Homo sapiens: one gene and its partner. The protein of the gene in region 1 purifies or fractionates together with the protein of each later gene. This does not show direct contact. Each region holds a gene or a part of one and is shown on either strand. Other genes may lie near its edges. The genes, in order: DCAF12L1 and DRG1.

Evidence for each region.
Region 2: the proteins of DCAF12L1 (region 1) and DRG1 purify together in Homo sapiens (co-immunoprecipitation; one large-scale study listed by IntAct). This does not show direct contact.

What each region holds. Positions count from the first base shown.
Region 1 is NC_000023.11:126,550,442-126,554,355, forward strand, and holds the start of DCAF12L1 (DDB1- and CUL4-associated factor 12-like protein 1), read right to left. Parts: upstream 2,374-3,914; 5' UTR 2,168-2,373; coding exon 776-2,167; 3' UTR 754-775; intron 667-753; 3' UTR 1-666.
Region 2 is NC_000022.11:31,427,005-31,430,818, reverse strand, and holds part of DRG1 (developmentally-regulated GTP-binding protein 1), read right to left. Parts: intron 3,760-3,814; coding exon 3,637-3,759; intron 1-3,636. UniProt on the Homo sapiens protein: Catalyzes the conversion of GTP to GDP through hydrolysis of the gamma-phosphate bond in GTP. Appears to have an intrinsic GTPase activity that is stimulated by ZC3H15/DFRP1 binding likely by increasing the affinity for the potassium ions.

The DNA of each region.
Region 1 (3,914 bases):
ACAACTTAAATAAGTTTTGAAATAAAAAAAAATGGTTGTTTCAACTTTCAGGTTAATTCTGAAAATGCAATGAAGCAGAACCCCTGCACTCCTAAAGTGTTCCGACCAATTAGGAGTTTGATACAAGCACAAGATTCTATGATAACTTATTTTGAAAGAGAATAAACTTCAAAAAAGCACTTTAGCACCAACAACGTAAAAACTATATACACTAAGATCACAATTTGTAAATTAAGTGTTTCCAAACGTAGGTAATCTAGAACTTGGAATGTACTTTTCCAATTGAACAATGCTATAAAACTATGGTAAGCTCTCCAGAAAAGATGTAGGAACACCTTGCTTACTAGAAAATTTTCTCTTCGTATCTGCAATGAAAAATAACTGAAAACAATGCTGTTGTAATATTGGTAACGAGGAAAAACAAGGAAAACAAATATACATAACTGAAAGACCATGACTGCATCTTCTTAAAGAAACAGAATGTATGAATCACTCAAAGAGAGAATGCAACTAAAGATTAACGATTAACCAAATTTCTTTGTATGAAAATTCCAAAAGATGGTGTTGGAAAGGAGTCAAAAAGTCTTAAAGCCAAGTTTTCATTGACCAAAGGACCACTCACTCTCTCTGCTTGGAGGAGTACAAATTAAGCTGGGCTGGTTCCACCTGGAAAACAAAAGACGCACAGAGTTAAAAGCAAAAAAATGCAGCATGAAGGGCAGTCGGGCGGAACTGAAAGGTAAATCTGTGTACCTGGAGTACAAGGCGGTCATCCTTAGCTCCAGAGGCCTGCATAGTTCCCATGGAGGCCTGCAGGGAGAGGCCCCCCAGCCACAAAGAGCTTCATCTCAGGCCAGTTGTAGCAGTGGGTGTAGAGCGCATTGGGAAACACTTCCATGCCACCAAAGTAATTCACCCAGAAATCATTGTGGTTGAGCCAGCCTCTGCCACAGGCAAGCCTGAGCTTCCTCCTTGCAGGTCCCGAAGAGGACTCCAGGGTGGCGGAGGCTCTTTCCTCCAGGAATTTCTGGGCCCGGACGTCATAGAAGAGCAGGGAGCCCTGACCGGTGCCCACAGTGATGATGTGGCGGTAGAAGCTCAGCGACCGCACGCCTGTGCCACCCTCTCGAGAACACAGGGGCCGGATGTTCTGCTGGTCCTGGCGCAGATCCAGGAAAGAGACGTGGGAATGGGAGCCCACGGCGTACACAGACATATCATCACAGTAGGTCAGGCACACATTATCCCGGAAGTAGGGCAGCCTGATGGACAGCAGCCTGGATAGTGCGCTCCCGGCTTTCCACAGGTGGAAGTAGCCGTCCAAGGACACCGCTCCCAGTTCCTGGTTCTTGCCGCCGCAGGCCAGGGCCCGCACCTTGCGGTTACTGGGGTTGATGATGGCCCTGGGGATGGCCTCCACATCCCTCGGACGGATGTGGGCATATACGGGGAGACCCACCTCGCTATGCCAGGCAACAGTGTCATCGAACTTGTCCGGGTCCATCCGCCACAGCGCCACAGTGCCGTCGCGGGAGCCGCTCACGGCTACGGTGTCACTCAGCCAGGCGACGGCGAAGATCCAGTCCTTGTGGCCATGGCGGTCGCCCAGGCACAGGGGATCCAGGGAGGGCAGCTGGTAGATGGCCAGGCTGTTGGGGTTTTCGCCGCCGGTGGCCAGAAGCGTCTTGGAGGGATTCAGCTCGATGGCATGGATGCCGCAGCCCTGTTGGTCCTGGGCCAGCCTGGCCTCACTGTCCCGCAAGAGGGGAATGCGCGCGATGTGGCCTGACTCCACGTCCACCACGAAAAGCGTGTTACACTTGGTGCCGCACACCACCTGCCTGGAGTTCAGCCACTGTGACGCGAACACCTTGTTGACCGTGCCCAGCTCCAGTTGGCGCTCCGTCAGCAGCTCGGGCAGCCTCTGTACCGCGTAGCCCCGCAGCTCGCCATCGAAGCCCTGGAGCCTGGCGGGGCCCCACCCGCCTACCTCCCGAACCTTCAGATAGTGCGCCATCGAGCGATACGTCGCCGGCCGCCTCTGCCTCTTGAGTAGCAGCGGCCCCTCACCGTCCGCTGCCGCCAAGCCCTGCGACGGCGAGCTCTCGGCGTCCGCCTCGACCGCGGGCGCTTTCCGTTTCCTGCTACCTGTTTGCTGCTGGGCCATGGTGGGCGGCGGGCGAGCGGCGGCGGCAAGGCGTTGGTGGCGGTTGCAGCGCGTGGCTCCGGAGTCGGTCGTGGCGGCGGCGTGGATGGCTGCGCTGGAACCGAGCCTTCGGATTCTGAGGCGCGGCAGTGGCGGACCGGGTGAGGGACGCGCGGGAGAGGGCGGCGGTGGCGGTGCAGACCTAGGCGAAGGCGGGAAGTGCGTCTGGCCGGGCAGTGAGAGCAAAGTCAGCGTGCGGCGAGATCGACGCGGGGGGCCGAGTGGGAGGGGCGGAGGCAGTGGGAGGAGCAGGCGGTCGGGCAGGCGGTTGTGAGCGCGTGGGGTGCCTGAGGAGTAGCTGAGGCCGGGCGGGGTGAAGGCTGGGAGGGACAGGGAGGGGAGGGGGTAGCGGAGCTGCAAGGGCAGAGTCTAGGAGGGCCCGCAAGCCAGGATCCCAAGTATCAGACACGCGGCATTTCGCTACCCTCAGGACAACAGCTAACTACCCTTCTTAAAATCCCTACTTCAATAAAATCTGAAACCTACGATATAGTCAAGCACGGGGCTAGAAGGAGCCCAGGCCACGATCTGTCTGGAGAAACCAGTGTGCACTTGGTGTAATCCTGGGACACCCTTCGCTAAGATTAGACATTAAACTTGGCAAGGGATGGGGGATTCGGCAGCGCAGGGAGACCTTTACCCATATGTCAGACCTGCAACCCCTCAAGTTTCAGCCCCTCAGTTGATGTCTTAAACAGTTTCAAACAAATATTTTTTCCCTCCTCAAATTGAGGTCTCTGAGCTACTGCCACAGTCCCTTGAGGAGTACAATCCAAATGCAAATCCCTGGGACCCACATTTGGCCCATGGTGATATCAGCGAACACTTGGTTTGGTGCAGCCTTGAGAAAATGGTAGGCTGTACTAATGGGGGAGGAATCCTGAGGGGCTTTTTGGAGGTGTTTGCTTCCTTTGAGCCTCAGAGCCCTAAGGAGAGGGAGTGGAAGGATCCTGAGAGGGGGACCTCTTCCCCACTCCTGAGAAGCAAAGTTAATATCCCTGTTGTCAGTCCCAGAGGCGCCCAAGCAGAGTCCCTGGGACCTTGGGACAGGGTCTAGAGGCAGAGGATTTTCACGTGCAGAGAACATAACGTTCCAGAAGAAGGCAACAACGTGGATACAATGATGCAAGTTTAGAGGTTCTGTGCATGAATAACTTCTCAGAGTTCATAAAGTTCTTATCCAGTTCTGCTGCTTCAGAGCAGCCAGTCAGGTGGCAGGCGCAAACGGGGCATACTCAGTTACCCAGTGATTTCAGTTACACAGTGATACATTGGGGAGAGAGGGCAGTGAGAACAAAGTCAGTGTGTGGACAGATCCACGAGGAAAGCCAAGCGGGAGGGGCTGAGGCAGTGGGAAGAGCAGGCGAGTGGGCAGGCCGGCCTGAGGGTGTGGGGTGCTGACACCTGCGGTGATTAATTTACTTCCTGATCAGGGAAAACCATAAGAGTTATTTTGTTGCTGCTTCTCCCCAACCCCCTCTTTATTTTTCTGGTTTTCTGTCCCCTTCCCCCATCCCTTTTTGCAACTTCGCCTCAAGTGCACAAATTCCAAGTAAAAGCCATAGGTCCTTCTCACCACTCCAATCCAGCAGCTGCCTTCCAGTGTACCCCAACACTCCCTTGCACCTCACTTTTGATTCCTCCCCATATCATTCATCCTATAGCAATAGAAAGGCTGCATCTGCTGGTGGTAATAGTGAACATGAAA
Region 2 (3,814 bases), on another chromosome or scaffold:
TGAGCCTGGGAAGTCGAGACTGCAGTGAGCTGTGACAGAGCCACCGCACTCCAGCCTGGGAGACAGAGAACCTGTCTCAAAAATAATACTAAGTGGGAAGGCTAAAATGAACCCTGTAGTGGCCGGGCATGATGGCTCACGCCTGTAATCCCAGCACTTTGAGAGGCCGAGGCGGGCGGATCACGAGGTCAGGAGATCAAGACCATCCTGGCTAACACGGTGAGACCCCATCTCTACTAAAAATATAAAAAATTAGACGAGTGTGGTGGCGGGTGCCTGTAGTCCCAGCTACTCAGGAGGCTGAGGCAGGAGAATGGCGTGAACCCGGGAAGCAGAGCTTGCAGTGAGCGGAGATGGCGCCACTGCACTCTAGCCTGGGCGACAGAGCGAGACTCCATCTCAAAAAAAGAAAAAAAAAAAAAAATTAACCCTGTAGTATTGAACTAGAATCAGAGATAACAGTATAAACTCATGGTTTTTAGGAAAGATGGATAAATGATGGATAGTGAGGAAGGATAAGACAGATACAGAAATACAGTTGTGTATATAAGCATCATTAGTATCCATACATGTATTTCCTAACTTTATTTGCTGAGAGGGCCTACAGGCAATGATAACCTACTTGCTAACAATGAGCATGCTTAGCACCCACATCTTGAAAACTGGGGCTCCTTGGAGAAGTGACTAATTTTCAGGGCTAGTGCAGGCAAAATCAATGTCATTTGGGAACATCTAAGTATTAACACTATCAAAAAGTAAGGAAAGGGTGGCTGATGCCTGTAATCCTGCACTTTGGGAGGCAGAGATGGAAGGATCACTTGAACCCAGGAGTTTGAGAAGCCTGGGCAACATTGCAAGACCCCATCTCTACAATAAATAAATGGCTCATGCCTGTAATCCCAGCACTTTGGGAGGTGAAGGTAGGCGGATCACTAGAGCCCAGGCATTGGAGACCAGTCTGGGCAACACAAGTCGGACCTTGTCTCTACAAAAAAAATAGAAAAAACTAGCTGGGCATGGTGGCGCACACTTGGAGTTCCAACTACTCAGGAGGCTGAGGCAGGCTGAGGCTTGAGCCCATGAGATCAAGGCTACAGTGAGCTGTGATCGTGCCACTGCACTCCGGCTTGGACAACAGTGAGACCGTGTCTCAAAAAAAAAAAAGGAGCTTATCAAAAGAACACAGGGGCCAACATGAAAGAGTTCCTAATGGCCAAAGCTTTGTAGTAATTTGAGCAACAAAATAATAATAGTATTAGATTACATCCTATAGAATAAAATAACCAAGAGCTCATACTGATAGGAATTATGAGTTAAATAAAGAAGTGGTAGCTCTAACACACAGAAGTCCAATAAATAAATGTAAAATAAAAAAGGAAAATAAAGAATCACCATTAGGCCAGGCGTGGTAGCTCATGCCTGTGTGTAATCCCAGCACTTTGGGAGGCCGAGGCAGGCAGATCACCTGAGGTCAGGAGTTTGAGACCAGCCTGACTACTAAAAATACAAAAATTTCTACTAAAAATACAAAAATTAGCCGGGCACGGTGGCACACGCCTGTAGTACCAGCTACTCAGGAGGCTGAGGCAGAAGAATTGCTTGAACCCAGGAGCCAGAGGTTGCAGTGAGCTGATATCGTGCCACTACACTCCAGCCTATGGCTAGGTAAACACCATAGCCATAAATGTCACAAACAAGCCTCACCAGTAGATGCTAATAGCAGGCAAAAATTTGAAGAGAAAAAGGACTTTCACAGTCTCAAAAGTACCCCGAGATACTTATAAAATACGGAGAGAAAAATACTACCTTCACGGCAGAGAAACCCACCCTACACCAACTTAACCAAGTAATCAATGTGAATATTATCATCGGTGAGGTATATCAACATCATGAATCTCATGTAATGATACATTGAGAAGAACATATCATTATTTTTGTGGTATTCTTACCAAAAATGCATAATCTCATTTCAATCATGAGAGAACACTGGACAAACTCAAACTAAGGAATATTCAATCAAATAACTAGTGAACACTCTTCAAAAGTGTCAAGATCATCAATGACAGTGAAAGTCTAAGGAAATATTACTGGTAGACTAGAACACAAGACTACAAACAAGCAACAACTAAATGCCACACAGGTTCCTGGAACACAAAACAGACACTAGTAAAAGAAAAAGTAATAAATTTCAAATAAGATCTATAGTTAACAACATCATACCAATGCTTATTTCCTGTTTTTGATAATTTTATAGTAATGTGAGCTGTTAACATTAGAAGTGGGGTGAGAGATAAAAGGAAACTTTGGGCTGGGCGCAGTGGCTCACGCCTGTAATCCCGGCACTTTGGGAGGCCGAGGCGGGCAGATCACAAGGTCAGGAGATCAAGACCATCCTGGCTAACACGGTGAAACCCCATCTCTACTGAAAAATACAAAAAAATTAGCCGGGCGTGGTGGCGGGCACCTGTAGTCCCAGCTACTCGGGAGGCTGAGGCAGGAGAATGGCATGAACCCTGGAGGCAGAGCTTGCAGTGAGCCAAGATTGCGCCACTGCACTCCAGCCTGGGCGACACAGCGAGACTCCGTCTCAAAAAAAAAAAAGAAACTTTGTGCTGTATTTGCAACTTTGCTATTGGTCTAAAATAAGTTCAAAATAAAAAATTAATATGCTGGGCATAGTGGCTCACACCTATAATCCTAACACTTTGGGAGGCTGAAGCAGGTGAATTGCTCGAGCTCAGGAATTCAAGACCAGCCTGGGAAACAAAGCAAGACCTCGTCTCTAATAAACATTTTTTAAGGCCAGGCACGGTGGCTCATGCCTGTAATCCCAGCACTTTGGGGGGCTGAGGTCAAGAGTTCAAGACCAGCCTAACCAACATGGAGGAACCCCGTTTCTACTAAAAATACAAAATTAGCTGGGCATGGTGGGTGGCACATGCCTGTAATCCCAGCTACTCAGGAGGTTGAGGCAGGAGAATCACTTGAACCCGGGAAGCATAAGTTGCAGTGAGCCAAGATCACGCCATTGCACTCCAGCCTGGGCAACAAAAGCGAGACTGTCTCAAAAAATGAAAAATTAAAAATTAGCCGGGTATAATGGTGTGCACCTGTAGTCCCAGCTACTCAGGAGGCTGAGGCATGAGGACTGCTTGAGCCCAGAAGATTGAGGCTCCAGTGAGCTATGATCTCACCACTCCCTCCAGCCAAGGCAACAGCAAGACCGTCGCAAAAATAAAATAATTTTTTTTCAGCCTGTGTCAGCAGTGAAAAATGTAAGAGATTAGGGAGGTTTTGCCCATGTTTAAGGTTTAGAAGGGGGCTCAGTACCCAGTAGAGGCCAGTGTGACATTGGCAGGAATTATTAATATTTGTGTTTGCCAAGAGGAAGATGAAATAATGAGGGAAGGTCAGGGTTGTTTGTGTCATCAGGCTTCCTGACCTAAAGAGGTTTCTAGAGCTCTTCCTATTCTAATTAGGCACGGTTTTAAGAAGACACTGCAGAGTTCTAGCCAAGCAAACATTTCAGTAGCCTCCTTCCTGCCTTCTTTTTTAAAATGCTATCCTAAGAATTACTAGTTAGTAAAATTGGTAACTCATAGGAAAAAGGAGGGACCACAGGCCCATGATACTTACTATTTAAATTCTTTGATAAGATTTTTGTGAATCTTCATGCAGAAATCCTCCACTGTGGTCCTGGAGTAAGGAAGCACCACTGGGGATGTGTAATCTGGTAACTGGCCTTTGGGTTTGGTGTAACTAGAATAGAGAGGGCATAAAGATTACTGCCTTCTTAGACTATCTCATGTGTTGA